2 linked regions of the Homo sapiens genome follow. The protein of the gene in region 2 purifies or fractionates together with the protein of the main gene of each other region. This does not show direct contact. Each region holds a gene or a part of one and is shown on either strand. Other genes may lie near its edges.

What was found.
Region 1: the proteins of HOXD11 (region 2) and LYPLA1 purify together in Homo sapiens (affinity purification with mass spectrometry; one large-scale study listed by BioGRID and IntAct). This does not show direct contact.

The regions. Positions count from the first base shown.
Region 1 is NC_000008.11:54,091,937-54,095,742, forward strand, and holds part of LYPLA1 (acyl-protein thioesterase 1), read right to left. Parts: intron 1-3,806. UniProt on the Homo sapiens protein: Acts as an acyl-protein thioesterase. Hydrolyzes fatty acids from S-acylated cysteine residues in proteins such as trimeric G alpha proteins or HRAS.
Region 2 is NC_000002.12:176,105,808-176,110,375, reverse strand, and holds HOXD11 (homeobox protein Hox-D11), read right to left. Parts: upstream 3,097-4,568; 5' UTR 3,021-3,096; coding exon 2,240-3,020; intron 1,470-2,239; coding exon 1,234-1,469; 3' UTR 622-1,233; downstream 1-621. UniProt on the Homo sapiens protein: Sequence-specific transcription factor which is part of a developmental regulatory system that provides cells with specific positional identities on the anterior-posterior axis.

The sequences.
Region 1 (3,806 bases), on a different chromosome or scaffold from region 2:
AAATAGCCAGGCATGGTGGCATGCAGCTGTACTTCCAGTCACTTGGGAGGCTGAACCCAGGAGGTCAAGGCTGCAGTGAGCTGTGTTCACGCCACTGCACTCCAGCCTGGGCAACAGAGTGAGAGACCCTGTCGAAGCAAGGAGGAGGAGGAGGAAAAGGAGAAGGAAGAGGGGGAGGGGGAGGCAGCGGCGGCAGAGGAGATGGAAGAGGCAGAGGCGGCGGCGGAGGAGAACCCTGTCGAAGTCAGGGGGAGGAGGAGGAGGAGAAAGACGGAAGAGAAGGAGGAGGAGGAGGAGAAGGAGAAAGAAGGAAGAGAAGGAGAAGGAGGAGAAGGAGAAAGAAGGAAGAGAAGGAGGGGGAAGAGAAGGTGGAGGAGGAGGAGAAGGAGGAGACAGAGAGAGAAGGAGGAAGAGGAGGAGAAGGAGAAGGAAGAGGAGGAAGAAAGAAGAAAGAAGAAGAGGAGGCATGCAGACAAATTCCTTGGTCTCATTCCAGACCCACTCAATCAGAAACTGGCAGTGGGGCCCAAGAATCAAGTCTTTCAAGTGATTTTGATGCATGCTATAGTATGAGAATCATGCCTTTCTAGTTCTCAGTTTTCCCATCCATAACCAGGAGCTAGTTGTACTGGATGATTCGAAGGTCTATACAGGTTATAAAACTCTGACTCCAACCATATTAATATAAAAAGGATGGCCAAGCTGTAGCCAACTCTTTTGATAATTTTCAGTGACAATGAAAAACTCAAGATTTAAGAATTCTGGCTGGGTGTAGTGGCTCACACCTGTAATGCCAGCACTTTGGGAAGCCAAGGTGGACAGACTGCTTGAGCTCAGGAGTTTGAGACCAGCCTAGGCAACATAATGAGTCCCTGTCTCTACTTAAAAACAAAACAAAACAAAACAAAATCAGGACCTGTGTGGTGGCACGCACACATATTATTTCCATTTGTTCATTATCCTGTAGTAATATGGGTGTAGAACAGAGATTCTGTCTGGGTTTGTAAAAGAAACACCACTCATCCCCAACCCCATTCATGTAGCACGTTATTCTTATGAACTCTCCTATCAGTCCCAATCAGTCTTACCAACTAACTAGACAAGAAAAAAAATGACCTAAGACAGATCAGATTCTTGACTGAACACCAGAAGTAGGGTTGATATAAGTCAGAGCTAGGATCGTTCACTTGTGGATAACACGAGTGTGTCCACACTGAGAATTACGCAAATCTACAGAAAGAAGCAAGTGAGAGACCATAAGACCAGGGAAAGGTAGTGAGAATAATGGTGTAGTTGAACAGTGTTCCCCCCAAATTCACATCCACCTGAAACCTCGGAATGTGACTTTATTTAAAAATAGGCTCTTTGCAGATTTCCTTAGTTAAGAGTTGAGATCACACTTGATTAGGGTGAGCCCTAAATCCAATAACTGGTGTCCTCCTAAGAGGAGGAGAGAACAGAAACACAGCAAAGGTCACATGAAGACAGAGGCAGAGGTTGGGGGTATGGTGCCTGAGGCCAAGGAAAGCCGGGAGTTATCAGAAACGGAACAGGCAAGGACGGATCTTCCGTTAAAGAGAATGTATGTGGCCCTGTTGACAGCTTGGTTTTGGACTTTTGGCCTGTTTAACTGTGAGAATGAATTTCTGTTGTTTTTAATCCATCTAGTTTGTGGTTATTTATAATGGCAGCCTTAGGAAACTAATACATGTGGTGATTGATGCTCCTCGTATGTCTCACCCTTTAATTCTTTATTTATTCATTTATTTGTCCAACAAATACTTAGTGCTATTACATGTCCTATACTATTCTAGCACTGGGAATACAGTATTAATTTAAACAAAACACAAAAAATCCCTGTGCTGAGGTATATTTTATGGTATGTGAATTTTATCTTAATGAAAGTTTATTAAAGAAACCTTTGCCTTCATGGACTTTATATGCCAGTGGGCTGCCCTTCTATCCTTCCACAAATTCTAATTTTTGTTTAAGCTAGTTGAAGAGTTTTCTATTCCTTGTAATTAAATGATCTCCAAATCACATTCTATAATTCTATTATTAATAGTTCTTGATTACAGGAAGACTTGCAAACTTATTACGGTCACAAAACATATCCATGTTGCCAATTTATTTTAAATCCTCACCTTGTTTGACCTCTCAGTAAAATCTGATCCAGTCAACCACTTATTTTATCTTTCAAACATTCTTCTCTATACTTTTATAATCTCCTTGGTCTAGGAAATGTCACAGGGACTGGTAATACAGATAAGTAATTCCTGGAATACATCGGGGCTGGGGAGTAGCAGGGAGGGGGACACATGAAGAGAACCAAGCTTTCCACCAGGCCTTTCCTCCTCCTCGTTTCCCCTTAATTGGAACTGAGCTTTCAGGTGTGATATTCAGCAGATGGGGAGAGGTCCCATGAATGAAGCATAGCTGTGAGCTGGTGCAACTGGAGGGGCACACTCCACAGTTGCACTGTTGGCCAGAACCCCCCAAGAACAGAAGTCAGGTTCCTCACGGAATTACAAATATGGAAAGGGAGAAGGCTATAATAAACCCTGTGGTGCTGGGCTGCAATTGGAGGAATCATTATAAACTCAAGATTTTGAATACTTATAAATACTAAAACTGATATGTGTGTACATATGTATGTATGTCCATATATTCTTAGCTCTGTCCACTGCAAGGGTCTAGATCTGGGAGCACATATAGCATCCAGATCTCACTGTCTACTAAAAGGAACCAGGGTTCTTGGAAAAATGGCTGAGTCCAGGACTAGAGCAGGAAACATATAAGACAATCCTAGAAAAAGTCTTGTACCATAAAGTGAGGAAGTGATCAAATAAGAATGAGGATATGTCCAAAAGACACCAAGTACCAGCTTGAAAGGGTTACTGTGGCCAACTAAAGGACAATTTGAGCATCAAAATAAATAACTAACTTGATTGTTATCCTCTGAATACAATAGGAATCCAAGAGTCTGTACTGATTTAAAATTTTGAAACAAATGAGTATCTACATAAGTAATAAATAAAGGAGAAAGGAAAGCTCTACCCCACAGTAGACTGCTAAATAATAAATCCAGAATAAAGGAATTTTTTTTTTTTTTGAGACTGAGTCTCACTGTCGCCTAGGCTGGAGTACAGTGGCACCATCTTGGCTCACTGCAACCTCCAGCTCCCAAGTAGATGGGACAACAGGCATGCACCATCCTGTCCAGCTAGTTTTTTAATTTTTAGTAGAGACGAGGTTTCGTCATGTTGGCCAGGCTGGTACTGAACTACTGACCTCAGATGATCCTCCTGCCTCAGCCTCCCAAAGTGCTGGAATTACAGGCATGAGCCACTGCACCCGGCCAGAACAAAGGAAATTTAATTAAAAGACCATATTTTAACTTTAAATATTTAAATATCATAAGATATTCGGCAACTACCACAACAATAGATTCTGGCAATAATCATTAATGGGTGCTAAATCCATGGGTGAACATATGGTGGGGATCAGGAATATGTTATAATATCAAGGTATCTCCCCACAAAATATTTTTTAATATTTTAATTACATATTCAATATTTTAAATATTTCATATGTTATATTTATTATTTTAATGTGGAGAAACCTGGCAGACACCATCTTAACCAAGTGATAAAACACATCAGTAACAACAAAATCATCATGAGGTCTGCCTAATATGATGCACTGTTATGGACACAGCAATACCCCTATAGTGTTACTGTCAAAAAGGTATAAATCACAAAACATCAGATAAACCCAAACTGAGGGACATTCTACAAAGTAACTGG
Region 2 (4,568 bases):
TTGGGCCCACCAGAAGGTGTATAATATAACCCAATTAAGCTGTTTAGAACTTTGGCTTTTATGGTGTTGTCTAGACAGTTCAAGGTTTTGTAAACAGCCTGGCCTGGCCCTGCAACATAAAGTGCAGTAGAGCCCTCACCACATTCTTTAACTTGAAGCGATAAATGCCGTGAGAGGGTCTGCAGCTCCTGGCCCTATTTCAGTGGGGGCGGGGAGGGTTTACCTTCCCTACTCCAGGTCCACTTATGACACCAGCAAGCCCTCTCCACCTACTGATGACTTCCTTTTCGAAAACTTCTCCCTTCAATGGAAGTTTCTAATTTTGGTTTCTTCTTTTTTAAGGGACTGTGACTCCTTGTTAGCTTGTAAGAGATCATTTGGATTTTCTAACCAGTTTTTAAAAATGGTTGCTGTCTTTTCAGAAATCCCAAGTTCACTAGACTAGTGGTGGGGGTGGGAGTTTTCTTCTTAGGTTCCTGCTGCCCCAGCCTTACTGCCTGGAGAAGGCAGCGCCAGCATTGCTTGGTCACATCGTCAATTCAGAAATTCATCACTAACATGATTTTTAAAACCAGTGTAACCTAGAGGTGGTGGGAGGGTACGACTACTATTTTAGTGGGACTAAAAAGTATTTCATTCGATTTTCAGTTGCATGGGTTCTGGCCACTAAAATATCCTAAGGAGGCACTAAACCTCAAAGAGGAGAATTCATACAGTGTATTGAAGCTGTAACCTCCATTTTACTAGAAACCATTTATTCACACAAAAAAAGACAGTGACTCATGCCTTGATATGACAGACTAAAAGTACATTTCCCAAAGTTTAAATAACCTGCATTCACCGAAGAGGAAGGAAGGGATCTCTTAAAACTCAGAGCAAAACACCAGCGCCTTCTAGCAACCCCCAACCCGGCCCAACTTCCTACAGACCCCGCCGTGTCCCCACGAGGACTCGGAGAGGGGGAGGGGGAACGACAGCACACTGGCGGTAAAATTGTAACGGGACGTTTGCATTTACCATTTTCCCCTTATTAGGATCCGCTCGGCCAAGTCCCGGCCTCGTCCGCAGGCTGCAGTGGTCGCTGGGAGGTCCCGAGTTGACCGTGGGAAGGAATCGTGAAGTTCCACAGAGAAGAGACGTCATTAAACCCAAGGACAGTGGGCCTGCGGAGAGCAGGCTGGTGGGAAGGAGGGTGGGTGAGTGGGGCTGGGGTGAGGGCGCTTCCTGGAGCTCTCAAAATAAGGGGTTTCCAGTGAAATACTGCAGACGGTCTCTGTTCAGTTTCTTTTCTTTCATCCTGCGATTCTGGAACCAGATTTTGACTTGCCGGTCAGTGAGGTTGAGCATCCGAGAGAGTTGAAGTCTTTTCTCTTTGTTTATGTACACGTTAAAGAAAAACTCGCGTTCCAGTTCGCGGATCTGGTACTTGGTATAGGGACAGCGCTTTTTCCGGGACCGCTGGGGGGCAACTGCAAGGCAAAGAGACCAGGGGGTGAGAGAGGCCGCTGCCTGACAGCCCCCACCCGCCCGCCCGCCCGGGCCACTGAGCGAGGGCCAGGCCCTGGCCCCGTTGGGGACGTTCTCTGCCGCGGCCGAAAGGCCCTGCCTGCGTCGTGGGGGATGATATATGGGCGGGCACAGGAGAGAGTGCGGGCGTGGACATGTGTTCACGCCCGGACACACACACACACACACACACACACACACACACACACAGAGCCTGGCACGGAGGTGGGGAAGCAGAGGGCAAGGCAGGCTCTAAACTGGAACCTGAGGGAACAGAGACAAGAGCAGGCCCGCCGGGGCATCTGCTTGACTCCAGCGGCGCGCGTCAGCTAGCGGCTTGGATAAAGTCCAGTGCAAGGATCAAACTCCCCCCACTTCCCCACCCCCCGCCTCTCTCCCTTAAAAGCAGGAGGCTCCGGTGTATGCACTCACACTGGCTTGAAATCTCCCTCCCTCCCTCCCTCCATGGTATCTAGCAACCCCCTGCCCAAAACTGGGAAAAGGCTCTCGACAGCTATTAATGTCCTCCTCGAAGTCTACCTTAAGCCCACCTAAATTGGTTTCCTACCATAAACACACTTTACAACGGCCCAGGAAATCTTATAGGATGTATAAACCTCTTCGAATGCTTATAAAGTAGCACATAAAAAGGCGCAAGCAGAGGGAGGCCTCCGCCCCCCCCCCCTCCCCCGCGGCCCCCGGGCCCACCGCTTGCCCAGTACCCGGTGCCTACCTGCGCTGCTGCTCTTCTCGGCCCCCGCCTCTCCCGGGGGGCCCTCGCCGTCGCCACCGCTGCCTTCTGCTGCCCCCTTGGGCTCCGAGCCAGGGGTCGCCTTGGTGCAGGGACTGCCCCCGCCGCCACCAGCCCCGGTCCTGGGGTCGCCCTTGTCGGCTGCGCCCTCGGGCTGTGGCGGCGCGGGTGGCGGCGGGGGCTGCGGCCCGGCGAACGGGGGCCCGGGCGCTGCCTCGTAGAACTGGTCGAAGCCCTGTGGCAAGATGCCATTGCGGCCCACCGCGCTGTAGAAGTTGGAGGCGGCGCCCGCGGGGCCGTGCGGCGGCCCCGGCGCAGCGCACACCGGCTCAGGCGCCTTGAAGAGCACGTCCGGCCGGCGGCCCGCGGGCGGGAGAAGCTCGCGTTGCATGGCCGCCTCCTCGGCCGCCGCGGCCGCCGCAGCCGCCGCCGCCGCCGCCGCGTAGTAGGGAGCGTAGCCCCCCGCGCCGCCGCCGCCCCCGCCGGGGCCGCCCCCGCTGCTGCCGCCCCCCGCGCTGCCGCCGCCGCCGCCGCCGCGGTACGGCCACTTGGCGCGCTCCAGGCCGTAGTCGCGGAAGGCCACTTCGCGCACGGGCTGGACGTGCGGAGCCAGGTTGGAAGAGTAGGGGAAAGTCATCTGGCAGGACGACGGTTGGGAAAGGAACGAAGGCTTGCTAGCGAAGTCAGACGGGGCCACATAGTAGGCGCAGCCCGGCAGGTACATGCTGGCTGCGCTCTGGCCGCACTCGTCAAAGTCGTTCATGACTCCGCGGCGTGCGCGCCAGCGAGCCTCTGGCCGCTCCCCGCGCAGCCAACCTGAGCCATCGATTGCACAAGAGGCTTGGGCCAGGATCAACTAAGCAAAAATCCCCACCGGGCGCTGACGTGCAATTCATCTTGATTGATTCTGGTGGTAATTATGTCACGTGACGCCATGAAGAGAAATGTCCTTATATCTATATCAACGCTCGCCAACACGCCCCGGGACGGCTCCTGGCGCCGAGACGCGCGCGCTGGGGGCGGATCGGCTGCCCTCTGCCGCCAGCTCTCCCCGGGCGCTCCCTGACCAGGCTGCGCCTCAGGCCGGTCACCTGCGCGCCGCTGGCCGCTGTCACCGCTGGGCGCATCTGCCACCGCCCGAACGGGCCGCCCGCCCGCGTCCGCCCTCCCGCGCCGCTTTAAGTACGCGGACCGAGGCCGGCGGGGAGGAGGAAGGAGGGGGAAGAGGGGGAGGAAGGGGGAAGGGAGAGAAGCAGCGAGCAGAGGGGGGGAAGCCCCGGCTCCAGGCTCCCTAGAAGCTAGGAACTAGGTGTGAGGGTGTGAGGTTCCGAACCCCACCCCCCTTACTGCAGCCGCTCCCTCCCCCGCGACTCTGCCACCCTCTGCAGCTCACCCGCCTGGGAGCTTGTTGCTTCTTGTTCACCGGGCGGGAGTAATTTCGCCACTCTCCAGGGCGCAGGGAGCCCTGATTTACATATTTTTCTGCCCAGCGCGTTCAGAGTGGAGTGACTTGGCTCTTTCCGGTTCTGACCCCAAGGGTGCGAGTGCTGGCCTCGGAAAAACCCAGGCCATTCACCACCTAGGCACTCACCCAGGCCGGGGCCTTCGTGCCCACCCGGCTCTCTTCCCTTCTCTCTGGTTTCCCTCTCTGTTCTTGTCTCTCTTTCTCCTTGCCTCGTTTCTCTTCAGTCTTCTCCCTTCTCTCTCCTGTCTTCACTTCTCTCCTTCCTCTTCTTTTCCGCTTTCCTTCTTCCTTCCTCTTGCTTTCCTGTCTCCCTTCTCCTCTCTCTCTCTGTCCTCTCATCCTCTCCCCTCCTTTCCTCTAAGCTGTGTGTCACTGTCTCTGTCTCTCTCCCCGTTGCCTCTCTGCCTTCTCCTTCAGCACTGAAGCCAGGAGGGGGCTCAGCCCGTGGTCCCCAGCCTCCCTAGAATCTGGGGAGTCTGGTGAACAAAAGGATCTGGAGTCCTACTCTTAGGGTGCTTGGCTTCCCGCTGGCTCCCCACAAGAGACAACCCCCACACACTCGCACCTTCGTCCTCCTCACCCCTCTGCTTTCAGGCCTAGCCTGGGTGTCCGCCTTATACCTAGACCCTTCACTGCTTCGGAGCCCCGCCAAGGCCTGCGAATCCACGCCGCGTTTCCCCGAGGCTCTTCTGGTACCCTTGGGTCTGCATGGTCACTTCAGCCCCTCCCCCAAGATAGGTTGTCTCTCTAAGGGCTCTCAGCGGAGCCTGACTCCCTCCTGGAGCCCCTCTGTGTCACCTGGCTCTGAGGCAGACTCTTCGTGGGGCACCCCATCCACTCCCCCAA